7 linked regions of the Homo sapiens genome follow. The protein of the gene in region 1 interacts with the protein of each later gene in a pairwise test. Each region holds a gene or a part of one and is shown in the gene's direction. Other genes may lie near its edges. The genes, in order: RSPH1, DCTN6, DOCK3, SRXN1, NETO1, SOX10 and MFGE8.

What was found.
Region 2: the proteins of RSPH1 (region 1) and DCTN6 interact in a two-hybrid assay, tested with the Homo sapiens proteins (one large-scale study listed by BioGRID and IntAct).
Region 3: the proteins of RSPH1 (region 1) and DOCK3 interact in a two-hybrid assay, tested with the Homo sapiens proteins (one large-scale study listed by BioGRID and IntAct).
Region 4: the proteins of RSPH1 (region 1) and SRXN1 interact in a two-hybrid assay, tested with the Homo sapiens proteins (one large-scale study listed by BioGRID and IntAct).
Region 5: the proteins of RSPH1 (region 1) and NETO1 interact in a two-hybrid assay, tested with the Homo sapiens proteins (one large-scale study listed by BioGRID and IntAct).
Region 6: the proteins of RSPH1 (region 1) and SOX10 interact in a two-hybrid assay, tested with the Homo sapiens proteins (one large-scale study listed by BioGRID and IntAct).
Region 7: the proteins of RSPH1 (region 1) and MFGE8 interact in a two-hybrid assay, tested with the Homo sapiens proteins (one large-scale study listed by BioGRID and IntAct).

Annotation. Positions count from the first base shown.
Region 1 is NC_000021.9:42,486,225-42,489,724, reverse strand, and holds part of RSPH1 (radial spoke head 1 homolog), read left to right. Parts: intron 1-3,263; coding exon 3,264-3,354; intron 3,355-3,500.
Region 2 is NC_000008.11:30,162,869-30,166,368, forward strand, and holds part of DCTN6 (dynactin subunit 6), read left to right. Parts: intron 1-1,242; coding exon 1,243-1,307; intron 1,308-3,500. UniProt on the Homo sapiens protein: Part of the dynactin complex that activates the molecular motor dynein for ultra-processive transport along microtubules.
Region 3 is NC_000003.12:51,356,927-51,360,426, forward strand, and holds part of DOCK3 (dedicator of cytokinesis protein 3), read left to right. Parts: intron 1-35; coding exon 36-215; intron 216-831; coding exon 832-915; intron 916-1,034; coding exon 1,035-1,151; intron 1,152-3,500. UniProt on the Homo sapiens protein: Potential guanine nucleotide exchange factor (GEF). GEF proteins activate some small GTPases by exchanging bound GDP for free GTP.
Region 4 is NC_000020.11:650,401-654,415, reverse strand, and holds the start of SRXN1 (sulfiredoxin-1), read left to right. Parts: upstream 1-1,215; 5' UTR 1,216-1,230; coding exon 1,231-1,440; exon of another isoform or gene 1,441-1,463; intron 1,464-4,015. UniProt on the Homo sapiens protein: Contributes to oxidative stress resistance by reducing cysteine-sulfinic acid formed under exposure to oxidants in the peroxiredoxins PRDX1, PRDX2, PRDX3 and PRDX4. Does not act on PRDX5 or PRDX6.
Region 5 is NC_000018.10:72,749,488-72,752,987, reverse strand, and holds part of NETO1 (neuropilin and tolloid-like protein 1 isoform 3 precursor), read left to right. Parts: intron 1-2,367; coding exon 2,368-2,926; intron 2,927-3,500.
Region 6 is NC_000022.11:37,978,056-37,981,555, reverse strand, and holds part of SOX10 (transcription factor SOX-10), read left to right. Parts: intron 1-3,420; coding exon 3,421-3,500. UniProt on the Homo sapiens protein: Transcription factor that plays a central role in developing and mature glia.
Region 7 is NC_000015.10:88,900,782-88,903,379, reverse strand, and holds part of MFGE8 (lactadherin isoform a preproprotein), read left to right. Parts: exon of another isoform or gene 1-1,197; intron 1,198-1,644; coding exon 1,645-1,829; intron 1,830-2,598.

The DNA of each region.
Region 1 (3,500 bases):
TGTAAAACCATATTTCAGCGATTACACATACCAAATGCTGTGGCAAGTGCACGGAACCCTGCCCAGGGTCTGACACCGAGTGTTTCCCCATAAGTGTGGGCTCCTTCTCTCCTGTGTTTGGCTGACCCAGCAGTTTAGGGAGCCAACTTGGCAAGACCATGGGCCAGCATGGCAAACCAGTGACCAACCAGCATTTGAGGGGGGAGGAGCATCTTGGAGAGCTTCTCATTTTAAATTGTCTTCAATCCCAAGTGCCAGACAAACTGCTCTACCCAAGGAGCACCTGCTCCACACCAGCCAACTGACCCACAACCAGCCAATCAAACAGCCAACCAATCAACCAACCAGCCAACTGACTAGCCAACCAAGCAACCAATCAACCAACCAATTAACCAACCAACTGTCTAACCAACCAACCAATTAGCCAACCAGCCAACCAACCAACCAACCAACCAACCAGCCAACCAGCCAACCAAACAGCTAACCAATCAACAAACCAGTCAACTGACTAGCCAACCAACCAAACAACCAACGAACCAGCCAACCAAACAGCCAACCAATCAACCAACCAGCCAACTGACTAGCCAACCACCCAGCCAACCAGTTAACCAACCAACCAGCCAGCCAACCAACCAACCAACCAATCGGTTAGCCAACTAACCAACCAGCCAACCAGCCAACCAACCAACCAACCAGTTAACCAACAAATCAACCAACCAACCAACCAACCAACCAACTGGGAGTTACTCCTGAGAAGAAATATAGTTGGAAAAAACCTCAGTTGACAAGTTCAAGAATGATCAGAAAGTATAGGATTGGGGTAGAAAGACTTTAAAAAAAAAATTAAGTGCAAATTTAAAGCCACAATAATAAAGTTTACAAATGTCACTCACCTCAAAAAAGGAAACTTGACTTATAGCTGTTAGAGATGTGCCTCAGCAGGTGACTTTTCTCTGAATTACCTTCTCTATTTGTGCAGGGTCCCTGTGGTGGCATTACAAAATGCTGGGCCGAGCCTCTTAACAGGTTTTTTAAGTAGATTGGGACTTTAAAAAATTTTGCTCACCGTCCTCTTGGTGCAAAATTTAGTGTCTTTTGCAACTTAACTGTTCTCTTTTATTTTTGAAATTTTTCTGCAAAATATGTAATATATTTTTCTCACCATGACACCCTGGAGATCCTCTGACATGGCCAAGAGAGGAGGGATGTAATAATTTTGTCATGAAGTTTTGTTGGGAAGAAACCAAATGATGTACCTGTTTCAGCTGAGGTCTCTATGCCCCAGGGCTGTGCTGGAACCCCCTCATAGTAGCTCACAAAAACCCATTCTGTGCATCTCTTCCCAGCTCCATGTGTAGCTTGAAATTGGCCGCGGTGTGAGTATTTACACCACAGAACCTGGCAAATGTTACAAATCCAGGCACATCACTGCCCCTTAAGACCCAGACAAATCCCTCTAGGTATTTGCACATCCTCATGGTTAATTTAGGTTCAGGGACCTGAAGTATTTTTTACTGAATTATCTCAATTTGGGGATCTTCATCTCTCTTGTTCACATTGTTCCTGTCACACATCACATCATGGGACCTAGTCCTCTTCCTTAATTGTTAGCAGTTGCCACCTTCCCTCTCTCCATGAATTTTTGGTAAGCCTGCTCTTTTCTGAATGACTTACCCACTTTTTGAAATTGTGCCATGCAGCTTTTCGTGCTGCCTTCCCTGTCCTCAGCTGCTGCTCAGGTGCCAACCTTCCATCCTCAGGCTGGTGCTCGCGCCCTGGGGACATGCACTGTCCTTTGTACAGCTCTTCGTTCATCTCACAAAGTGCCCAGGACATTGTAGGTGCTGAGTAAATAATGGGATGATTGAGGAAATAAATATGTAGAAGTTCCTTCTGCAGATAAATTTTGGGGTTATTCACATAAACAAATATTACTTGAATAATTAGCATTTTCTTAGCCTATTGGGTATTCTTTATCTTCATGTGGAAGTGGGTCCAGTTTTTGTGTAAGCCAGAAGCTTATGTAAGTTTTGAGAACCTCTTTAAAAAAAAGAAAATATAAAGTTGGTATAAAAGTGAATTTTCATTTGCAATGATAAATCAAAATAAGTTAAAAATTTAAAAATACCACAAACATCACAGAATCTAAGTAGCCTGAGTTTTAATGTCTGACATACTTCTAGAATAGCTTTTCTCTACCTTTGTTAGCTAATACTCTTTGAATGCTTCTCCATATGGCAACCATTTTGTAATGTTTTCTATAGAGAGAATAGAAATATAATTCCTTCTTTTCTCTTTGATCAACAAATTGATCAACATTTGCTTTTTATTATTCATAGTCTCAAAACATATCATTTAGCTTAATGACTTGGTGTAATATGCACGTTTTTAAGAGCAGTCACCTTTGGGAGACCTCTATTAAGTTTCTTTCCTAAGTGAGCTGTAAGATTTGAGGACGTTTTGAGTTTTCTAGTGCAGGGATTCATACTGTGGTTGACAAAAGTAGTTTGCAGTTGTCCACATCATGGAGTGGTATTATGAATTTTATGATATCCTTGCCAATTTCAGTACTGCCTACCAAGCCTATAAGGACTTAGCAGAAGCCGTATGGAGGTGAGGAGGTGAGGGAAGAGTTCAAACAGAGGCATGGCACCAGCGGATGGAGCTGGTGTGCAGCTGGGGTTAGAGTGGCATGTTGGAGTCAGATGATTGGGTGGGAGATAGACTGAAATGCTGCCAGGTGGCTGAGGATAGATGGTCAAGCCCTGGAGTTGTTGCTGGATCTCTAAACATTTGCAAGGTAAATGAAGTGTGGTGTTAGGATCACTGGCAATGGGTCAGACAACCTTGGTTTGTCTCCCTCCTCGTTGCATCTTCGTGGTGCCTCTGACTAACCTGTGAAATGTGCTTGTCAGTACATGCAGGTGGCTGTGGCCCACATCCATACACCTCACTCTGTACCCCGTGAACTCCTGACTCAGCCCTCTCTTAGCCCACTGTCCACCGTGGCTCAGCACCTATGCCATCTGGCACAAAAGGAAGGGGTGGAGGGATGTCAGAGTGGAAACAGATAGCAGCCTTGGTCGGTGCTGTTAAAAATCTCTCTTCTGCAGGATTTCCTGAGCAGAAGGGGCCTGTGTGTGCATGGGCTTCATTTGCTTCACAACACATCTGCCTTTGCCATGGTTAACAATTTGAAGACATGGTACAGGGCATCGATCCCTTCTTCTCACCTGGGCTTGCCTTTGTGTTGTTCCTTTCAGGAGAGTGGGCAAATGACCTGCGGCACGGCCATGGCGTATACTACTACATCAATAATGACACCTACACTGGAGAGTGGTTTGCTCATCAAAGGTTCGGTTTCTATCTTGGGTCTTAACGGGATTTGCTTATGTAATGAGAACATGATGTCTGCAGATTGTTTACACTTACTGAGGAACAGAATCATAACAAAAGCCCAGTTACCAACTCTGCCAGGCAGGTCCAATCTTTCTATGGCT
Region 2 (3,500 bases), on another chromosome or scaffold:
TAAATAGTTTGAATGTATATTTTTTCTTCCTACCTTTACAAAAATAATGGCATATTACATACTGTCCATTTTCTCACTTCACTCTTTTTTACTTTTAACAATATAGCTTGGAGATCATTCCATATTTTTTTTTTTAAGAGATGAGGTCGCCGGGCACGGTGGCTTATGCCTGTAATCTCAGCACTTTGGGAGGCTGAGGTGGGTGGATCACCTGAGGTCGGGAGTTCGAGACCAGCCTCACCAACCTGAAAAAACCCCGTCTCTACTAAAAATACAAAATTAGCCAGGTGTGGTGGCACATGCCTGTAATCCCAGCTACTAGGGAGGCTGAGGCAGGAGAGTTGCTTGAACCTGGGAGGCAGAGGTTGCAGTGAGCCGAGATGGTGCCATTGCACTCCAGCCTGGGCAACAAGAGTGAAACTCTGTCTCAAAAAAAAAAGATGAGGTCTCACTATGTTGCCCAGGCTGGTCTTGAATTCCTGGGCTTAAGCAGTTCTCCTTCCTTGGCCTCCCAGAGTGCTGGGATTACAGGTGTGAGCCACTGTGCTCAGCCATTCCAAAATCTTGACAAGAGATTATTCATTCTTTTTGATGGCCATGTAATAGTCCATAATGTGCCATAATTTATTAACTAATCTTCCACTGATGAATATCTAGGTTGTTTTCAGCTTTTTGTTGTTTAGAAACGTGCTGCTATTAAAAGAAAAGATTCAAAACTCTTCTCAAGTGTTTTAGCACATGTGATTTGGGATGATGGACAATATACCAATTGAAAAATTTATAATGTATTAAAACCTTACCCTCTTACCATTGACTTTCCATTTTTCCATCTTTTTTTTTTTTTTTTTCCTGAGACAGAGTTTCACTCTTGTTGCCCATGCTTGAGTGCAATGGCGCGATCTCGGCTCACTGCAAACTCTGTCTCCCGAGTTCAAGTGATTCTCCTGCCTCAGCCTCCCAAGTAGCTGGGATTACAGGTGCTCGCCACCACGCCTGGCTAGTTTTGTATTTTTAGTAGAGATGGGGTTTCTTCATGTTGGTAAGGCTGGTGTCGAACTCCTGACCTCAGGTGATCCCCCCACCTCGGCCTCCCAAAGTGCTAGGATTACAGGCGTGAGCCACTGCGCCTGGCCTTTTTTTCCATCATTTTTTAAACCTTGTTTTCATTACAATGTCACGGTAGCTCCTCCAACAGTATGTTTAATCTTACCCCTGGTAAATGTTACCTTTTTCTTGCTACAGTGTGAAGATTGCTCCTGGAGCAGTTGTATGTGTAGAAAGTGAAATCAGAGGAGATGTAACTATCGGTAAGAAATAGTTTATTTACTGTTTTTCAAGAATTGATGTGATTTAATCTATTTTAGTGCTTTACAATTAGATACCGTCTTCCATGTTTATTTCACTGATGTCCTAGTTTTATTGACAAAATAATGCATTTTCTCCTATGTGTTTAAATTTCTGAAAGAATGTAGTGTGATGGAGGCTGTGTTTAAACTCCTATCTGAAATACTAATGAGGCTGTATAACAAAGTCATTCATGTATTTAAGAGAGATCTGTTGTGTACCTGCGATGTGCCAGGCACTGTGCTAGTGCTAGAGACACGTCAGTAAGCACAGCAGACAAAGGTGCTGCCTTTGTGGAGCTTCGTGGAGAGCGTGGGCCATGGAGTCAACAGACCTGGGCTACTCTGCTCCTTGCTCCTTTCTTGCTGGGTTACTTTGAACATATTACTTAACCTCTCTAACCTTGATGTTTTTCCCATCTATATAATTGTGTGTATCAGGATCAGGTTCGGCTGCATGTAGGGGTGGCTTACACCTGCAGAGGTTTATTCTCTCATATAAAAAGTTTCAAGGTGAGTAATGGAGGGCTGATCGGTTGATTGTCCAGCATGGAGCTCCGGCCCTGCAGGCCAGGAAGTGATGGCTAGAGCACCAAGCATCATCTTGGATGAGAAAGGGGAGGCGTGGAAGCAAAAGGGCATGTGTTCCAGCTGTGAGTCAGCTCCCTTTAAACAGCCTTCCTGAAAGTTCCACACGACCCTCCTCTGTGTGTCTCATGGCTAAGACAATCTCATGGACACATCAAGCTGCAAGGGAGTTTGGGAGTTGTAGTCTTAGCTGGTTGCATTGCAGCCGCTAATGAGATCAGGGTTCTATTACAAGGAAAAAGAGGAGAAGAGATATTGGATGGCAATGAGCAATTTTCATAACATGCAAAATAGTAGTATCTACCTCCTAGGTTTCTTGAAAGAAAACATGAAAATTGTGAGTAGTAAGCTGTCAATAAATATTTGCTGTTAACGCTGTCAGATCTTCTCAGTGTAGCCTTGCCAGAGTTCAAGTCCAACATTTTACTTACGTGAACTTGACTAAGTTCCTCAAACATTTTACTCTGTTCTTTTAACTGGGGTTTACCTGGATATGGTGCCCTTGTAGTTTTATTGGTGTGAGCTCATTCTTACCAGCAGCCGCATGTCACCTGTATGCTACCAGACTAAAGTGTTCAGTGAACTATTACACTTTCAGAGAGGAAATACACTTTATTTCCTTAAATGAACAGTTTCTTTAATGAAAAAAAAAAAAACCCTGTAACGTCATTTTTTTTTTCCAAAAAAAAATCTAAGCCTCCAAACAATTTAGGCATCTTGTCTTATAAAACCAGTGGAGATTGTGCCAGTATTATGGAACATTGTTAAGAATTTGCCAGGTTAGGACGGGCACGGTGGCTCACGCCTGTAATCCCAGCACTTTGTGAGGCTGAGGCGGGCGGATCACATGAGGTCAGGAGTTCAAGACCAGCCTCAACATGGAGAAACCCCGTCACTACTAAAAATACAAAATTAGCTGGGCATGGTGGTGCATGCCTGTAATCCCAGCTACTCGGGAGGCTGAGGCAGGACAATTGCTTGAACCTGGGAGGCAGAGGTTGCGGTGAGCCGAGATCGCGCCGTTGCACTCCAGCCTGGGCAACAAGAGCGAAACTCCTTCTCAGAAAAAAAAAAAAAGAAAAAAGAAAAAAGAATTTGCCAGGTTGGTTGATTTAATTATTTCTTTTCAGTGCCGTGGTAACTCTTTGTCTTTTGTATTACCTAAACCACTTGCGAAGTGTTTATGAAGCAAAATGAGGAAAGTTATGTTTTTTAATTTTTTACAATCTCTACTGCAGACTGGGACCACATATTTATCAAAATGCTCCTCTGTGTTCTTTTTACTCATCATTTTACTGCATTATAATTGTGGCTATCATCATGATATTCTAGGAATAATACCTTATAGTAGTTTGCAATGCATTCTTCAGTTAGAAGGAAAGTAAGACTGAAGTGATGTAATTAATTATGTAGATTTTCCCTGGCATTTCTACTTCTTCCCCATTTTACATTTTTTCTTTTCTTTTTTTTTTAAATCCCCCAATGTTACAACAACCCCGTTTTGGTTTTTTTTTTCTTTCTTTTTTTTTTTTTGAGACAGGGTCTCGCTATTTTGCCAAGCTAGTCTTA
Region 3 (3,500 bases), on another chromosome or scaffold:
TTTCTGGGATGACTCTGTGTGCTGTGTGCCCCTAGGTGGAGGTGAGCCCTCTGGAGAATGCCATCCAAGTGGTTGAGAATAAGAACCAGGAGCTACGCTCCCTGATCAGCCAGTATCAACACAAGCAGGTGCATGGCAACATTAACCTGCTAAGCATGTGCCTGAATGGTGTCATTGATGCAGCTGTCAATGGAGGCATTGCACGCTATCAGGAGGTAAGCTGTGGCCACAGGCCAAACCCATGCAGCCAGCCTGGCCAGGAAGGCGGCTCACAGGCTTCTCTTTTCAAGATTATAGTCTCCTTAGGTAGCCTTCCCTACATGCCCTCTCTTGACATGGTCCTGGAATGAGGCCCTAAGCTCCCTATCACTCCCTATTTCTTTGGCACAGTTTGGTAGGGCCTTTTCTTCATTTTTATTCTCTGAACTCTAAGATGGGTAATCTGTAATCCTGATTATGGGAGGATGTTAAGTGCCCTCCAAGAGGAGCCTTGGAGCCCAGCCCGTCAGGAGAAGTGAGTTGTAGGCTGGATAAGAGGCTAGCCCCTACTCCCAGTCCACCAGTCCTGCCTGCCCTACCTAGGCCATCCAGGCTCCATGAGGGACTGGGGTCAGCATCCAGACTTAGATGGCTTGGCCACGTTCAGTCCTTCTCAGACAAAAAAACACACCTCTAATTGCCAGAAGTTCAAACAGGCCAGACTGGTGTATGTACCTATGAGGAGACAGCCTGGCTGCTTTTTAGGTGGCATTAGTGGACTCAAGTCTCCTGGGCCCCACTTAAGTAGTAGTCCTGGGAAGAGTCTTCCTGACTTGGCCTTTCCTTTCACAGGCCTTCTTTGATAAAGATTACATCAACAAGCACCCAGGAGATGCTGAGAAGATCACCCAGCTCAAGGAGCTTATGCAGGAGCAGGTATGTCTTGGAGGGCTTGGGAACCAGCAGCCAGGTGAGAAAAGCCATGCACTACAAGATGAGCAGTTCTCAGGGGCTACTCATGGTTCACAGAGTGGCCTTGTTTGTGACTCTGATAGGTTCATGTCCTTGGAGTTGGGCTAGCAGTTCATGAGAAGTTTGTGCACCCAGAAATGCGGCCTCTGCATAAGAAGCTAATTGATCAGTTCCAGATGATGCGGGCCAGTCTCTACCATGTAAGTTGATCCCTGTCCTGCCCCTGCTGCAGTAGAACCAGGTGTCACTTCCTCCAGACCTACGCCACAAACCAAAGGAAAATAGGAGAGAGGGAGCCTGGGCAGGGGCCGGGGTTGGGGAGAGAGGCTGTCCTCCCTACAGAGGGACAGGGGGCAAGGATGGATGCTATATCCAGGGGAAGGATGCTGAGGATCCTCCCACTCACTCACTCCCAAAGGAGGAGCCAGATTCAAGGGCAGGGAACGTTTTTCAGGGCACTGTGCTAGTAGACAGGTTTTCATATGTGAAGGAAGAGAGCTAACATATATGGCCCACATGTAGGGATCTTTTTGGAGATGTTTTTCATCCCAAGAACCTAAAGAGATAGGCATGGCCTGAGCCAGCCTTCTCTCCCCATCTCCCTCCTCCTCCTCTCTCCCTGTCCTTCTTCATTCTTTCTCCTCCCTCTAATCGTTCTCTTTTCCCTCTTTTTACTCTTCCTCCCAACTCCCTTTTCTCCCTCTGTCTCTCCCTCCCTCTTATTCCCAGCTTCCTCTATCATGTCTCGTGATCCAAGCTCACATCTGAGATAGCCTAGGATGAGCAGTACTTTCATGCTAGCAGTCCTTAAAGGAGTCAAGCAGGTCCTGGGGCTGGACCAGGCTCCTGAAAGTCTCCCTAACTCTGGCCCAGCTCTTCAGCCTCCACAGTAGGGTTTGGCCCAAGGACTTAAACACACAAACAGGACTTATATTCCAGGACCAGTATTCCTTGGCAGGGTCTTAGAGGAAATGCTGACTGGCTGAGGATAGAGCCCCCTATTCACATATCCAAACCTCATTTTCAACTGTGGGGCTGACTCCAAATGTTTTCTAAAGATCCCTTCCTGCTAAACAGGCTGGCTCCCAGATCTTAAGGGATATGAGCCCAATTACCTGCTGCTACCTGGCACCCAAGCCAAGTTCTCTTCTCATCACCCAGGACCACTGGACAGAAGTGGCAGGGAGACAAGAAGTAGAGCTGTTCAATGCTGCACGAGGTTGTCATGAGCAAAAAATTCCCCCTCTAGGGATAACCATGGCCACAGGAGCCCTGAGGGAGGTTGCACTACTTAAACTCAGTGGGCCTGACCCATTTGGGGCGGACCTGCTGTGTTCTTGGATGCTGCAGGTTCTGGTCATCTCCGTCCCTCCAGGCTCCCAGTGCAGGTCTCAGCCTGTGTGGACAAGTGTGGACAGCATGAAAAGAGAAAAAGAAGCTTGTTGTAGTTTGAGAGGTAGGGGCACATTTTCCAGAGGAAAGCCTGGAGATCCTGAAATTTCTCCCTCTGTTAGGATTCTCCCATGGTATTTCAAGGTGAAATATGCAGAGAAGCTCTTTTACATCTCCGCCTTAAAATTGGAGTGTCCATTTAGTTAAGAACTTGGGCAGTATCGCTGAGTCTGGTGGGTATTCATTCCACTACCTCTCATTCCAGGGTCTCCTGCCTGTTTGACTGGTCTCTGCTGTGTGCAAACTTCCCCATCACAGCAGGTGACCCAAGCAGGCTGGAGCCTGGCCAGTGAGGAGGTTCTCTGCCATGTGGGTTGCAGCAAAAAGCACAAAACACTTTCCTATATACATCACGTTCTTCCGTGTGCACACATAGCCTTTCTCCAGCTACAGAAATACATTTTAGCCCTCTGTATGCTTTGGAAGAAGCAGGTGGAAAACCCGGTGCTTCTTCACACCAAGCTCAGAAATATCCCCAGTGGACTTAGGGCCCCTGTTCACTACAGCTTTTGAAGGACGTGAGGAAACCTTAACAGTTGTTTCCTCTGAGTTGTACACAGGGACACAAACAAACATGCTGTCACCCAGTAGGGTTTGAGATCAGAAGTGTCTGCCCAGAAATCTACATACTTAATATGAATTAATTAAGCTAAAATAGAGCTGTGCTATTTTTCAGTTACATACATCAGGATTTTATGTTCTGTCTCCCCGTAGACTGTGTCACAGACAACCCAGGTCACTAAGAGCTGGGCCATTTAGCAGTCTAATAAAACCCAACACCAATCCTTATGTAATTGGTGCCCACCTATTGACAACTAATAATAAGCTCTTCCTCTCCTTCTTCCCAGATCTTGTTCTACTTATTCCGTAGCGAGAAAACCTGTTAACACACTCCTATGAGCTCAGACCAGCTTCAGTTTATTCCAGATGTGCTTCTCTTAATGTGGAGTCAACCTGGGGCCTCGCACACGGCCTTTGGTCTAGGTTCCAGTGCAGTTAGGAGGGTGTTTTAGTCGTGAAGAGGGCATTGCCCAAAGGAAGTCAGCAGTTCAGGTTCAGCCAACCATATGATTCTTTTTTGTTTCTTTTACATTTTT
Region 4 (4,015 bases), on another chromosome or scaffold:
CAGCAAAATGGATGTTATGCAATTCACAGAGCACTATGAGCACTCTCTCAATTCACACAACTTTGAGTGATGGGCAGCATGACTTCATTTTACAGACGGGGTTCAGAAAGTGTCAGCAACTGGTGGAAGGCAAAGTAGAAACTCCTGGCTCCCTCCTTCGTCTCCAGTTTTCTCCAGCTGGCAGGGTAAGTATGCATTTCTCCATGTTCGTGCCATTCAGGTTGAGAAGGAAGACAAGCAAACCAGACATGCTTGTCTTCGACCGAGTCTGGGATCGTCCACCTTCCTGCTTGGAGTTGGTGGTTAAGTGGCCCCACAGTTTGGACTCGTGTGACCTGACTTTCATTTCAGCTGACCTTGAACAGCGGGTCTATAACTGCACCTACTTCCAGTAGTGTTGTAATGACACAAACAGACAGTGTGGAACTTGAAGGCAGGGCCCACCCATTGTCAGCGCGACTCCTGAGGGCTCCGTGTGACAGTCACTGTTGCTGAACCAAGGCAGCCAACGGTGGGGTAGAAGGCGGACTCTGGAGCCAGACCGTCTGGATTTGAACGCGGATTCGGCCACTTACTAGTTCCGTGATCTTGGGTACATCACTTAAACCTGTGTCTCAGTCTCCTCTTCTGTAAAATGGGAATAACAGTCATACCTTCCTTGCAGGGTTGTTTTGAGGTTCAGATACGTTAATACACGTGCAAAATGTTCGGAACGACTCCAGACACAGCCGGCGCCAGACTGGAAGTGGAACCGCTGGTGGGGATCATAACCTCGCTGGCTAGGAACCCCAGCAGCGGGGCAGCAGCGCACCGCGGGCTTTGCCGACTCACCCTGGCTGGGCAGGTCCGCCGCGCTCTCCCCCGCCCCCGCCCCCGCGGCCTAAGTCGGCCCGGCCGGTGCGTCACCCGCGCCCCTCCCGCCCCGCGACCTGCAAACTCACCCTGAGTCAGCCCGCCCGGGCGTTTCCACTCCCCGGACGCCGCGCGGCGCAGGGGAGGCGAGAGGCGCCCCCCGGTGGAGAGCCTGAGCCCCGCGCGAGTCTGGCGGCACCTGGCGAGCGGAGCCGGAGTCGGGCTGGGGACCGCGGGGTCGAGGCCGGACCGCGGCGGGGTCGGGGGAGAAACGCGCGCTGCCCTGGCACGGGCCCCCCCCCCCGGCCGCGCGGAATGGTATGGCCCGGCCGGAGTTAAGGCCGGGGGGAGGCGGCGAGTCCCGCGGCGGCGGCGACGATGGGGCTGCGTGCAGGAGGAACGCTGGGCAGGGCCGGCGCGGGTCGGGGGGCGCCCGAGGGGCCCGGGCCGAGCGGCGGCGCGCAGGGCGGCAGCATCCACTCGGGCCGCATCGCCGCGGTGCACAACGTGCCGCTGAGCGTGCTCATCCGGCCGCTGCCGTCCGTGTTGGACCCCGCCAAGGTGCAGAGCCTCGTGGACACGATCCGGGTGAGGCCTCGGGGAGTCCAGCCAACCGGAGGGAGGGCTTCGGAGGAGGGAGGTTGCCGGAGGAGGGAGGTCGCTGCGATGGACGCGAGACGGACTGGTTCCGGGCCCAGCCGGAGCTCAGCCTCTGCTGTGTGACCTTGAGCAAGTAGCTGGGCCTCTCTGGGCCTCTGTTTCCTCACTTGAGCAAGGAGGGAATTGGGCGAGATAATTAAAGTAGTGATGATAACGCTTATAACGCTAGTGCTTGCAGTGGTCCAGGAACTGCAGGAAGTCCCTCAGTTTCCTATGCCAACCCTAGGAGGTAGATAGTGGCTCTTTTGCAGACGAGAACTGAGGCAGGGAAGATTTCAGCGGCTTGACTAAGATCAGGCGCTTAAAAAGTGACACGGCTGGAATTCACACCCAGGCAGCCTGGGCCCCACTGCCCAGCACATGGCCACCGCACTACCCGGAGATAAGCCGTGGGCTCTCATGGCTGTGACAGTCAGTGACAGTGGGACTAGGTGTGTCATATCTGCTGGGAGGCCCTTGTCTGAATGGGAAGTGGGAGAGGTCAAGGGTCAGCTCCACCACTGAGGAAGGGTGTTAAGAATACCGGAGTGATTCTGGCAGGAACTTGGGGGCCCCGCAAGAACAGGTGTCAGGTTAGGCCTACATAACGTTGTGTCCCCTTCCCCCGACCCTTGGAAGGTGAGCACATGAGATCCCTAAGCCCCACCCAGCACCTCTACAGCCACCCCCGATAACTTTCAGTCCTAGTATTTACACTAGTGTCCTCACTGCCTGGAGCCACTTCCCCAGACAACCACAGGGCCTGCTCCCCTGCCTGGTTCAGCTCTCTGCCTCCTTGATCACCCTTGGTCAGAGTCACTGGCCTCTCTAGCTCTCCCCTTAGCCCGAGATGTTTTTCAGGATACCACTTATGTCCACCAGAAATTATATTATACATCTATTTGTGTTGCATTTTATTTTCTGTCTTCCTGACCTCACGTGCACTCCACAAGGGCGAGGACCTCGTCCCATCTTATCTGTTGCCACAATAGTAGCACGGCGCCTGGCTGAGATGGGAAGGGATCTGCCATGCATGCCCTGTCCCACCACTGGGCTTTTTCTCCCGTTGAGAACCTCTTCTATCTCTGCCTTGTCGTTTCTCACTCTTTCTCGGTCTTCCTGTCTCAGTGTCAGGATCTTCCCTGACCATCCCTACCGGGTTAGGAGCTTCTGTGGGCCTGCAGCCACCTGTGTGCCCACCTGCATAGCTCTGATCTCACTGGCTTTTTTTTTTTTTTTTTAAGACGTTGTCTGGGTCTGTCACCCTGGCTGGAGTGCAGTGGCACGATCTTGGCTCACTGCAACCTCCGCCTCCCGGGTTCAAGCCATTCTCCTGCCTCAGCCTCCCAAGTAGCTGGGATTACAGGCGCCCACCACCACGCCTGGCTAATTTTTGTATTTTTAGTAGAGATGGGGTTTCACCCTGTTGGCCAGGCTGGTCTGAAACTCCAGACCTCAAGCGATCTGCCCACCTCGGCCTCCCAAAGTGCTGGGATTACAGCCCACTGGCTTTTAACGTCCTGTCTAGACACCTGCCTTCCGTGCTAGAACCGTAGGCTCTGAGGGCCAGAACCAGCTCTGCCTTTGCTTACATACACCTGTATTAGTTTTCTGGGGCCACTGTAAGTTACCACAAAGTTGATGGCTTAAAACAACACAGGTTTATTTATGGTCAGAAGTCCAAAATGGGTCTTACTGGGCTAACACCAAGCAGGGCTGCACTACTTTCTGTAGGCTCTAGGGGAGAATCCATTTCCTCGCCTTTCCCAGCTTCCAGACGCCACCCACACTGCTTGGCTTATGGCCTCTTCCTCTGTCTTCAAAGCCAGCAACATCAGGCCAAGGCCTTCTCACATCGCATCACTCTGACCTCTTCCTCTACTTCCTCTTCCAGTTTTAAGGACCCTGATAATGGCATTCGACCCATCTAGATAACCTTGGATAATTTCCGCATCTCAGGATCCTTACCTTAATTCTGTCTGCCAAGTCCCTTCTCCCATGTAAGGTAACACATTCAGAAGCATTCGGGCGTGGACATCTTTGGGAGCCATCATTCTGGCCATCCACCATCGTGCCTCCAGTACCCGGCACAAGGCCTGCCTGGCACGGCTGCCCTCCTTAGTGCTCCACTAATGCCCGGTAGGCATCAGCTCACTGACTCTTCATCAGCAGCCCTCTAGGATGTTTTATTCCCAGTTTACAGGTGAGGAATGGTGTTCAGAGGGCTGTGTGCCCCAGCTGCTGTGGAGAGGAGCTGAGATCCAAAGTCAGGTGTGCCAGGTTCCAGAGCTCAGGCTTGTGACTGCTGCACCTTACTGCTGAATAATCATTTGTGGAATCATGAGAGAGAACCCGTGGACCAGCAGCAGGAGGCCTTCCACGCCGCTCACACTTAATGGGGTCTCCCCAGAGTGCTCTACCCTGCACCCGTCCTGCCCCAGACTTTCCCTGTTTAGAGGATGACCTACTCTCCACCTGGCTGTGTGGGCCCCTAACAGGAAGTCAACTTAGATTCTCCCTTTTC
Region 5 (3,500 bases), on another chromosome or scaffold:
TGCCTTCTTGTTTTGAAACTCATTTTCATATTGCACTATTCGCATGCCTCTGTCTTTATAAAGTTAGCTGATACTTTCTTCTTCCAGCTGAAATGTACTGTTGAGGCTCCAGGAAGTTATCATGTTAGTAATTGTACTGTTCAATTCTAGACTTTACATTTTTATATGATTTATATTTCTTCATTAATATTCTCTATTTGATGAGCATTGTCCTCATTTTCTTTAGCTTCTTCAGTCATAGCTTGCTTTAGTTCCTTAGACATATTGATTATAGCTGCTTTGAAATCTTTGCCAACTCCAATATCCGGCTCCCCAAAGGGTCTTTTCATTGCCTGCTTTTTTTTTTCCTATATATACACTTCGCTTTACTGTTTCTTTACATGTATTATAATGTTTTGTTGAAAATCACATGTTAGATTAGTAGCATCTCTGAATACTAACTCCTTCCTCCCAGGACTTGTAGTTTTTCTTGTTTGTTTCTAAATGTAGACTTGGCTGGACCATTTTAGTGAAGCCTCTGATGCTGCACCACAGAGGCCACCGCCTTGGACTTCGCACCATCAGCCTTGGGCAACACGGTTTTAACAGGGCTCTCTGTGCCTCTCTCATTTCCTGTTCTCTCTATTTAGCTATCACCTCTGTTGGTATTGCAGCCAGTTGTTAGTCTCCACCAATTGCCGGCTGATTGCTCTACTGCTTTTGACAGTGCCCAAGATCATAAATTTTTCTACAGTCTAGTCAATTAAATTTAATTAATTGCAAGGGTAGTCCTTGAGTCTAGCCTTTGTGAGTTGTTATAACCCAGGAGGACTCTCATTAGCTGTTACTCTCCTAGCTCGTTCTGTTAAACTTCTAGATGTTCTAAGGTTCGTCTTATGGCTCTTAAGACACTAACTGTCTCTTAATTGCATACTTAATTGCACACTGCCTCTTAAATGCATACAGCACTCGGTATTCCCAGGTGGTCTCCTATCCAAGTACCAGCCAGGCCCTCATAAAACACTAAGAGGCAGTTAGTGTCTTTAGAGCAATAAGACGAACTTTCGAATGTCCAGAAGCCTGTGCATACCACAAAATCTCCATAGTTTTTGAAATTATCATTAGGCTTAAGTTTCTCCACACACCATTTCAAATAAACTAACTTTATTTAGGGGAAGCTATAATGCTTTCTGTACTTTCAGCCTGACTCTCTTTCTGGGCACAGCTTCTTCTGGGTCGGGGCAGGAACAGTGGTACAGGTCTGTTTATGCACAGAGCACTTGGGTGAGGTTGCTAACATGTGGTGTTGTCAACTTGCCACTCCAGGCAGCTCTCCTGTGTCAGCAAACTTGGGTAAGCATGATCCAAGCCTGGCATTCTCCACTGGAGACACCTGGTGTTGAGCTCCTGCCCTCCAAGTGAAGGCTGAGAGGAGGAACCTCGGGAGCCCCAGACATCTCAGCCACTCAGGCCAGAAAAGAAGCATGTCCAACATGGACCTGGTTGGGCATTGAGAAATGCTGGTAGCTTTCCCCTTCTAAGGAGATTCCATAACTCACTTAACTGGGAGCTGCAGGGAGAGGGTGCCCTGCGTTCTTGTCCACACCTCCCTGAGTAGGGTTCCCATCGTGGTGAATCAAGAGTGGAGGAAGCAAGTCATGGCTCAAATGCCACAGACTCTCACTGGTCCTAAGGACATTTAGTAGATTGGTTTATATAAATATATTTCCACTTGATGTACATCATTAGGACAATTTCCTGAGTTTCATTAAACCAGGCTTTAATTGGTTGAGTTTTTAAAATAATTTTCTACCAGTTGTGATTATTTCATTTGGGAAAGAGTCCATGCCATCATTCCAAAAGTGTGTGTCTTCAGATTGAATTGAATTATCCTTTGGTATCAGAATATTGTTGTTACTTTATAGATAGATTGTGTGTGTGTGTGTGTGTGTGTGTGTATTTTAAGATGAGATGCTGGACGATGGGGAGGGGGGCTATTTTTAAGACTGGTCAGTGTATTTTTTGTGAAAAAAGAGACTTTGTATTTATTTTAAAATATTTTCTTAACCTACGATAGATTAGATAGATAGAGGATTGTGTGTGTGTGTGTGTGTGTGTGTGTGTGTGTGTGTGTGTATTTTAAGCTGAGATGCTGGGCAATGGGGAGGGAGGGCTATTTTTAAGGCTGCTCAGTGGATTTTTTTGGTGAAAAACGAGACCTTGTATTTATTTTTAAATATTTTCTTAAGTTATTATAAGCCTGTAAAAATTCTGTGCTCAGCCTGCTTTACTTTAAGTTTTTAATACACATTTTGACTATAATATTAATGTTTGCTGCGTTGCTTCTTCTTTTGTCCGTTTGTTGTTTTCACTCTCTCCAACCTATAGAGAAGAGGAAAACCAGCCTGCTGGACCAGCTGACCAACACCAGTGGGACTGTCATTGGCGTGACTTCCTGCATCGTGATCATCCTCATTATCATCTCTGTCATCGTACAGATCAAACAGCCTCGTAAAAAGTATGTCCAAAGGAAATCAGACTTTGACCAGACAGTTTTCCAGGAGGTATTTGAACCTCCTCATTATGAGTTATGCACTCTCAGAGGGACAGGAGCTACAGCTGACTTTGCAGATGTGGCAGATGACTTTGAAAATTACCATAAACTGCGGAGGTCATCTTCCAAATGCATTCATGACCATCACTGTGGATCACAGCTGTCCAGCACTAAAGGCAGCCGCAGTAACCTCAGCACAAGAGATGCTTCTATCTTGACAGAGATGCCCACACAGCCAGGAAAACCCCTCATCCCACCCATGAACAGAAGAAATATCCTTGTCATGAAACACAGCTACTCGCAAGATGCTGCAGATGCCTGTGACATAGATGAAATCGAAGAGGTGCCGACCACCAGTCACAGGCTGTCCAGACACGATAAAGCCGTCCAGCGGTCAGTATCAATAGATTTTTTGATGACAACTATAACCTGAAGACTGAAATACTTCCAGAGTATTGTCTTCTATTTTGTCTTCATATTTCAGTTTCCCTTTAATTAATGATTTAAACCCTAGTTTTCCAATAGTTTCCCTCTTCTTTTTCCTTTTCACTGCTATCCATATTCTTCCTAAACCTCATACATGTGCACGATATGTATGTGTGTGAACACACATGCACACAGAGACCAAAGATACTTTATTTATTTCTAAACATATACACATATTTATTTTATAAAATGATGGCTTTTAATTTATAATACAGATTTATAATGCAAACTTACTTCCATGTGACCATTGCTCCCATCAATATTTATATATTTTGAGATATGAAATGATATTTGAAAACGATTGCCTTACCAAGATGGCTCACCCATCTTGATGGACAATTTTAATCCCAAAATAACATATTTTTCAATATAATGTATTTATTTTTGGTAGGAACACAAAAATACTTTTCTTTCACATATTACATAATATTTATATTAGGAATTGCATAGGATAGTATAGTATATTCATCATTTACACTTA
Region 6 (3,500 bases), on another chromosome or scaffold:
TGGCTCCTCCATTGTCCCTGTCCCCAGGTTCCCCCAGCCCAGAACCCTGGGCTTGGACTCCCTTCAGGAGGACTTATTCTTGGCCATCACTCAAGCTGTGTGCACAGGGGCCAGCCTGAGGTGTGGCAGTCAGGAAAACTGGCACTACTTGCTGAGGACCCAATCCCAATGGGAGGATGGGGCCAGAACCATGGCAAGGATCAAAGGCAATGCCAACAGAGGGTGGCTCCCTGGACCCTGGAGGGGGGTCCTGAGAGACATTTGGATTTGGGCTGGGCTGGCCAATTGCTCCAGGGGCTTCTCCTGAAACCTCCCCAAGCTGTGACTCCTGGGATGTCAAGAAGTGGGGTGGTTAGGTAGGCAGAGCTGGAAAACAGGTGTCTTAAAACCAAAAAGAGAAAGATACACACAGACTGTGTGGAGTGCCCCAAGGGAGTGTGGGATCAGACACACTGGAGCCCAGGTCCTAAGGGGCCGTGTCAGCCCCAACAGTCATTCTAACCTTTGATGCCCATCTGGGGAGGGGCTAGTTGAGGCTGATCACAGGGTGGTGCCTGTGGGTTGGCTGATCTGCCTGGAAAGAACCAGAGCCAAGAAACTGGAAAGGCGGACACAGGCAAGAGTCCCTCCTGTGTGGTGGGGGTCACCCAGCCTCTGTTCCCAGTGCCACAGGCCCCTTCCCCAAGTAGTCTTCTTATGCCCCTGGCCTAGCAGGACACAGGTAGCAGCAATCAGTGCCCCACTGTGGGAGGTCCCCGGTTGGGGTTTCCAGTTTGGGTGAGGAATCAGCCTACCTCTTCTTGCCCCCATTCCAAACCTGGGAGACCAGGGAGAAAGAGGGCTGACAGGAAGGTGCAGATGAGGACTGGGTTTGGAGTTAGAGCTGGAGGCGAAGTTGGGGGTTTGGGGCTGGTAATGTTGAGTGGGGACTGGTGCTGGAGATTGGGTTTACATGGTGGGCAGGCTGGGCTTGGGGTTGGGGTGGAGGTGGAATCAGCTGTCCGGCACAGCTGGTGGAGGAGGGAGCTGGGGTCGGGGATGGCAGTGGCCCCAGGCTTAGATTTCTGTCAGGGTTAGGCTAATGCTGGGAACTAGCTTAGGAGGTAGCAGCGGAATCCGATGTTGGAATCCTCTCTCTCTTCTGGCCCCTGTCACTTTCTTGCTGATGCTGGCTGCCAGCTGGGCAGGGGGCAAGGGAAGGATAGGTGAAAGAGTGAGCTCTGTGTCCCATGTCCCCAGCCATCCCAGAAGCCCCTCTGTTGGGGTCCACTGCTGGCGGAGCAGCTCTCTCCTCTGTGGGTTCTCCCCAGTCACACCCTCAAGGCCTGCTCCACCCCCTCCCCTGGTCCCAGCCGTCAGAGAGGGTGCCCACATCCCACTCCCTGACTCTCAAGGCCCTGCTCCGGCATCTTTGTCCTAAGTGTGTACACTGACTCTGACAGAGTCTCGGCTGGAGGGACCCTCTGAGAAAGCTGGGGCTAGGGCTGGGCTCAGGGCCGGGGTGGGGGGAGTAGACAGGGAGGCTAAGCCGCAGAGGAATGCTGCTGCCGGCTAGGAGGTGCCTGGCATGACCACCCCCGCCCAGCCTGGGGAGGGAGGGCTCGGCCTTCTGCTGACTGGGGGAAGAGGGCACTCACTGGGGTGTGAGGGGTGGGGCAGCTGAAGAGACAAGCCCTCTGGACTGACAGACAAGGCTGCTCCCACAAAGACTCATGGATTCTCAGTACCAAGGTCTGGGATTCTAGAATCTGGACTTTCCCCTCGACCCCCTCTGTAAGGTACCCCATCCTGCCCTCCTCACCCTGGGGCAGCCAAACCCTAAATGCCCTCCACCCTCCAACCCTGGCCTAAGGCTGGAGTCGGTGGCAAGGGCGCTGGCTTCAGGGCTTCTTCTCTCCATGTGTTGGTTTCAGGGACTGTTCCAGGGTCTGAGGAGAGGCTAGCTTCCTCTACTCTCTGCTATTTTCTGGACAAGGATATAGGATCCCCCACAGGAGGCAGTACCCCCCACCCAGACCCATGGTAAAGAGGAGCCACATCTGCCCCCTCAGTCCCACCACACTGGAATTCACACAATCAGGACCCAGAGTTAAGAGTCCAACCCTAGATCCTCCTGTCCAACCACCCCCGCAAGCAGCATTAGAAAAGCACCTCTTGGGGCCGGGCACGGTGGCTCATGCCTATAATCTCAGCACTTTGGGAGGCCAAGGCGGGTGGATCACCTGAGGTCAGGAGTTGGAGACCAGCCTGGCCAATATGGTGAAACCTCGTCTCTACTAAAAATACAAAAATTAGCCAGGCATGGTGGTGCGTGCCTGTAGTCCCAGCTACCCGGGAGGCTGAGGCAGGAGAATCGCTTGAACTCAGGAAGCCGAGATTGCAGTGAGCTGAGACCGCATCACGGCACTCCAGCCTGGGCGACAGAGTGAGACTCTGTCTCTAAATAAATAAAAAATTAAAAATAGAAAAGTACCTCTTGGGCTGGGCACAATGGCTCATGCCTGTAATCCCAGCACTTTGGAAGGCCAAGGCAGGCGGATCAACTAAGGTCAGGAGTTGGAGACCAGCCTGGTCAACATGGTGAAACCCCATCTCTACTAAAAATACAAAAATTAACCGGGCGTGGTGGCGCATGCTTGTAATCCCAGCTACTTGGGAGGCTGAGGCACAAGAATCACTTGAACCTGGGAGGCAGAGGTTGCAGTGAGCTGAGATCATACCACTGAGCTCTAGCATGGGTGACAGAGTGAGATTCCCTCACAGAAAAAAAAAAGAAAGAAAGAAAAGCACCTCTTCCTCAAGGTGCTCAGCCCGCTTCCCAGGCCCTGGTGCAAGGCATCTCACATCCATTATTCTGGCCAATCCCACACCCAAGTTAAGCCAATGTTATCATCCTTTTATAGGTGAAGAAACTCAGGCTCAGAGAAGTAATTTGCTCAAGGTCACACACACAGCTAGTAAGTAGCAGAGACTGAGTTCTCCCCCAGCCATGCTGCTTCTATTGCCCACCCTCAGTCCCAGGGAGCTCACCCCCACTGAAGTAGCCAATTCCACTTGCAGACAGCTTTGATGATGAGAAAGTTTTTCCTTTCCTTGAACTGGCATCTGCCCCTTGAAACCTCTACTCCTACTTCTAACTCCTCCTCAGGGGCTGCCAGGAGCAGCGGGCTGACCCCTCTCTCACCCTCCAGCCCATGAAAGATTTGGGGGCAGCCCTCTGAGGCTGTTATTCCTTGGGCCTCACATCTCTCAGTCCACAAATCATAGGGCACAGCCCCCACCCCGGGTCCTGTCCTCTGGGTGCCCCATCCCAGGGCCTCACATCTTCCAAGATGGACACTCAGAGGGAGGCCAACCTGGAGTGCTCTGGCATTCACGCCAGCCCCTCTGCTGTCCTCTCCGCCTCCCACCACACCCCAGGCTGCTGAACGAAAGTGACAAGCGCCCCTTCATCGAGGAGGCTGAGCGGCTCCGTATGCAGCACAAGAAAGACCACCCGG
Region 7 (2,598 bases), on another chromosome or scaffold:
CCCTAGTATCTCATTTTATAGATGGGGAGACTGAGAGCCAGAGAGAGGAAGGGACTTCCTAGAGTGCTGGAGCTGACAGTCCTGTCCCTGCCCTGGTGCCCCTTCCAACTGCATTTTACCAGAAAGGCTGTCTGACTTCCTGGGGAGGCTGAGAGTGAGGAGGGTATGAACCACTAGAAGCAGATGATCTGTAGAGGGGTCTGCGTTGAGCACATTGTGCAGAATTGGTGTCCTCTGCAAAGCTGCCCAGGTTTTAGCCTGCCTCAGGCCTCTCCTCTTCTGGGGCCAAGGGACAACCAGCTCTCAGCCCGGGAGCCTCTCTTTGAGGGGGAAGGTGGTGGTTCCCTGGTGCATCACCATCAGGAGATGATGGTACCATCAGCAGGCATTGTCAACACACCCTGGAGGCAAATGTCTTGAGTGGTGAGAGTACAGGTGGGCAGTGATATAACTTAGCTGGCTCCCAGTACTCTTGAGTGGTGAGAGTATTGGAGGGCAGTGATATAACTTAGCTGGCTCCCAGAGGGCAGGGGGCTCTCCAGTCCCACCGTCCACTCCTGCCTCCCTCAATTCCCCAGAGGGATAGACACTTGTGGAGTGAGGATTCTTCCAGGTGGGAGACACCCCCATCATTCTCTTGGGAGTTGTATCTCTTGCCCATCCCCAACTGTTCTATCCATATGCAGGTGCAGATACAAGTGCAAGGCAGCCCGGCACATTCCTGAGTGTTTGGGGCAGGGCTGAGTGAAACAAAGGCCAGCTTCCCGGGCCAGCCCTCACAGGCCTGTGTGACAGCATCCCCAGAACATTTGAGTGTGCGAAGGCCCTCTGGGAGACACTAAGTCAGGGGGCTTCTGGGGAATGGAAATAGAGATGTTCCTGTGCCCCAGGAGTTGTCTGATTTCTCTAACTGCCAGCTGCTGGAGGGCAGGGATGTTGTCCTGTTCATCACTGGGTCGTCACTAGGCAGGCCTTCATCATCTAGCTGGGATGTGTAGCTGGTAGAGGTGACGTCATAGTGTGACATTAGGAGTTTGTATGTGACTTGAGCATGATGCTTAATGTCTTTCAGTTTTCTCATCTATAGAATGGGCTTACTAATTTCTACTTCATTTAGTGTTTTTTTTTCTTTTTTTTTTTGGTGGCAGGTTAAATGACTGAAGTAAGCACTGAATAAACAATGTGGTTGTTATTAAAGTAGATAGTGACTGTGCCATGGGACGGATGGGAGGCCGAGGCGATGGGGGCAGTGCTGTGAGTCCAGAAGAGGAAGAAATCCTGCCCAAGTGAAGTAGTCAGGGCAGACTTCTTGGAGGAGGTGTCTCCAAAGTCAGGCATTGAAGGAGGGCAGGAGGTGGTGGAGCAGGGGCCTTCCCTGGTGCAGAGGAGAAGGGTGGTGAGTGGGAGGTCTTGGGTGATCTGTGAGGAGCTGAGCCCGGCTGGTTGAGGTGAGGAGGTGGTGGGGTCGGCAGTGAGAAGGTCGCACAGTTGGCCCTGCAAGGCGGATGGAGCTGCTTTCTGTTGCCCAAGAGCATGACAGGGGCTGGTCAGGATCCACAGAGTTCTTTCTGCTTCATCGCCTTGTGCTCCTGCCCCTGGGAGCTGTGGATCCCAGATCCAGATGACAGCCCACCTTGCTGGCAGGATGCGCCAATCCCCTGGGCCTGAAGAATAACAGCATCCCTGACAAGCAGATCACGGCCTCCAGCAGCTACAAGACCTGGGGCTTGCATCTCTTCAGCTGGAACCCCTCCTATGCACGGCTGGACAAGCAGGGCAACTTCAACGCCTGGGTTGCGGGGAGCTACGGTAACGATCAGTGGCTGCAGGTGGGTCAGCCTTCTTGGGATATGGGGCTGGGGTTGGGTGGGATGAGGTGGGACTGCCAGATCTTTGACCTCTCTCCAGCCCAGGCTTCTCTTCTGCTCCCCAAAAGAGTTCTGGAAAAGCCTTGTTTTTCTTCGGCTTTTCTTTCTTCTTCCCACCTGTACTCCCTTCTCTTGATCCTGCTTCCACCAAGGTGGAGAAAGGGTGTGTGTGTGTATGTGTGTGTGTGTGTGAATGTGTGTGTGTGAGTGTGTGAATGTGTGTGAATGTGAGTGTGTGTGAATGCGTGCGTGTGAATGCGTGCGTGTGAATGTGTGTGTGAATGTGTATGTGTGAATGTGTGTGTGTGAATGTGTGAATGTGTGTGTGAATGTGTGAGAATGTGTGTGAATGTGTGTGTGAGAATGTGTGTGTGAATGTGTGTGTGTGAATGTGTATGTGTGAATGTGTATTTGTGAATGTGTGTGAATGTGTATGTGAATGTGTATGTGAATGTGTATGTGTGAATGTGTGTGAATATGTGTGTGTGAGAATGTGTGTGTGTGTGTGAATGTGTGTGTGTGAATGTGTGTGTGTGAATGTGTGTGTATGTGTGTACACAAGGGGAGAGCCATTCCATGGGCTGCCACAGGATTGACAAGGCTCAGCCTATGGACAGACAGCAGGGCGGAGGCGGAAGAGGGAGACATGACCCAGGCATCTTGGGACCTCTCCCTTGAGCACAGCATACATATTCTCTGACTCAGTGTCTAAGAAGCCACCATGTGACAG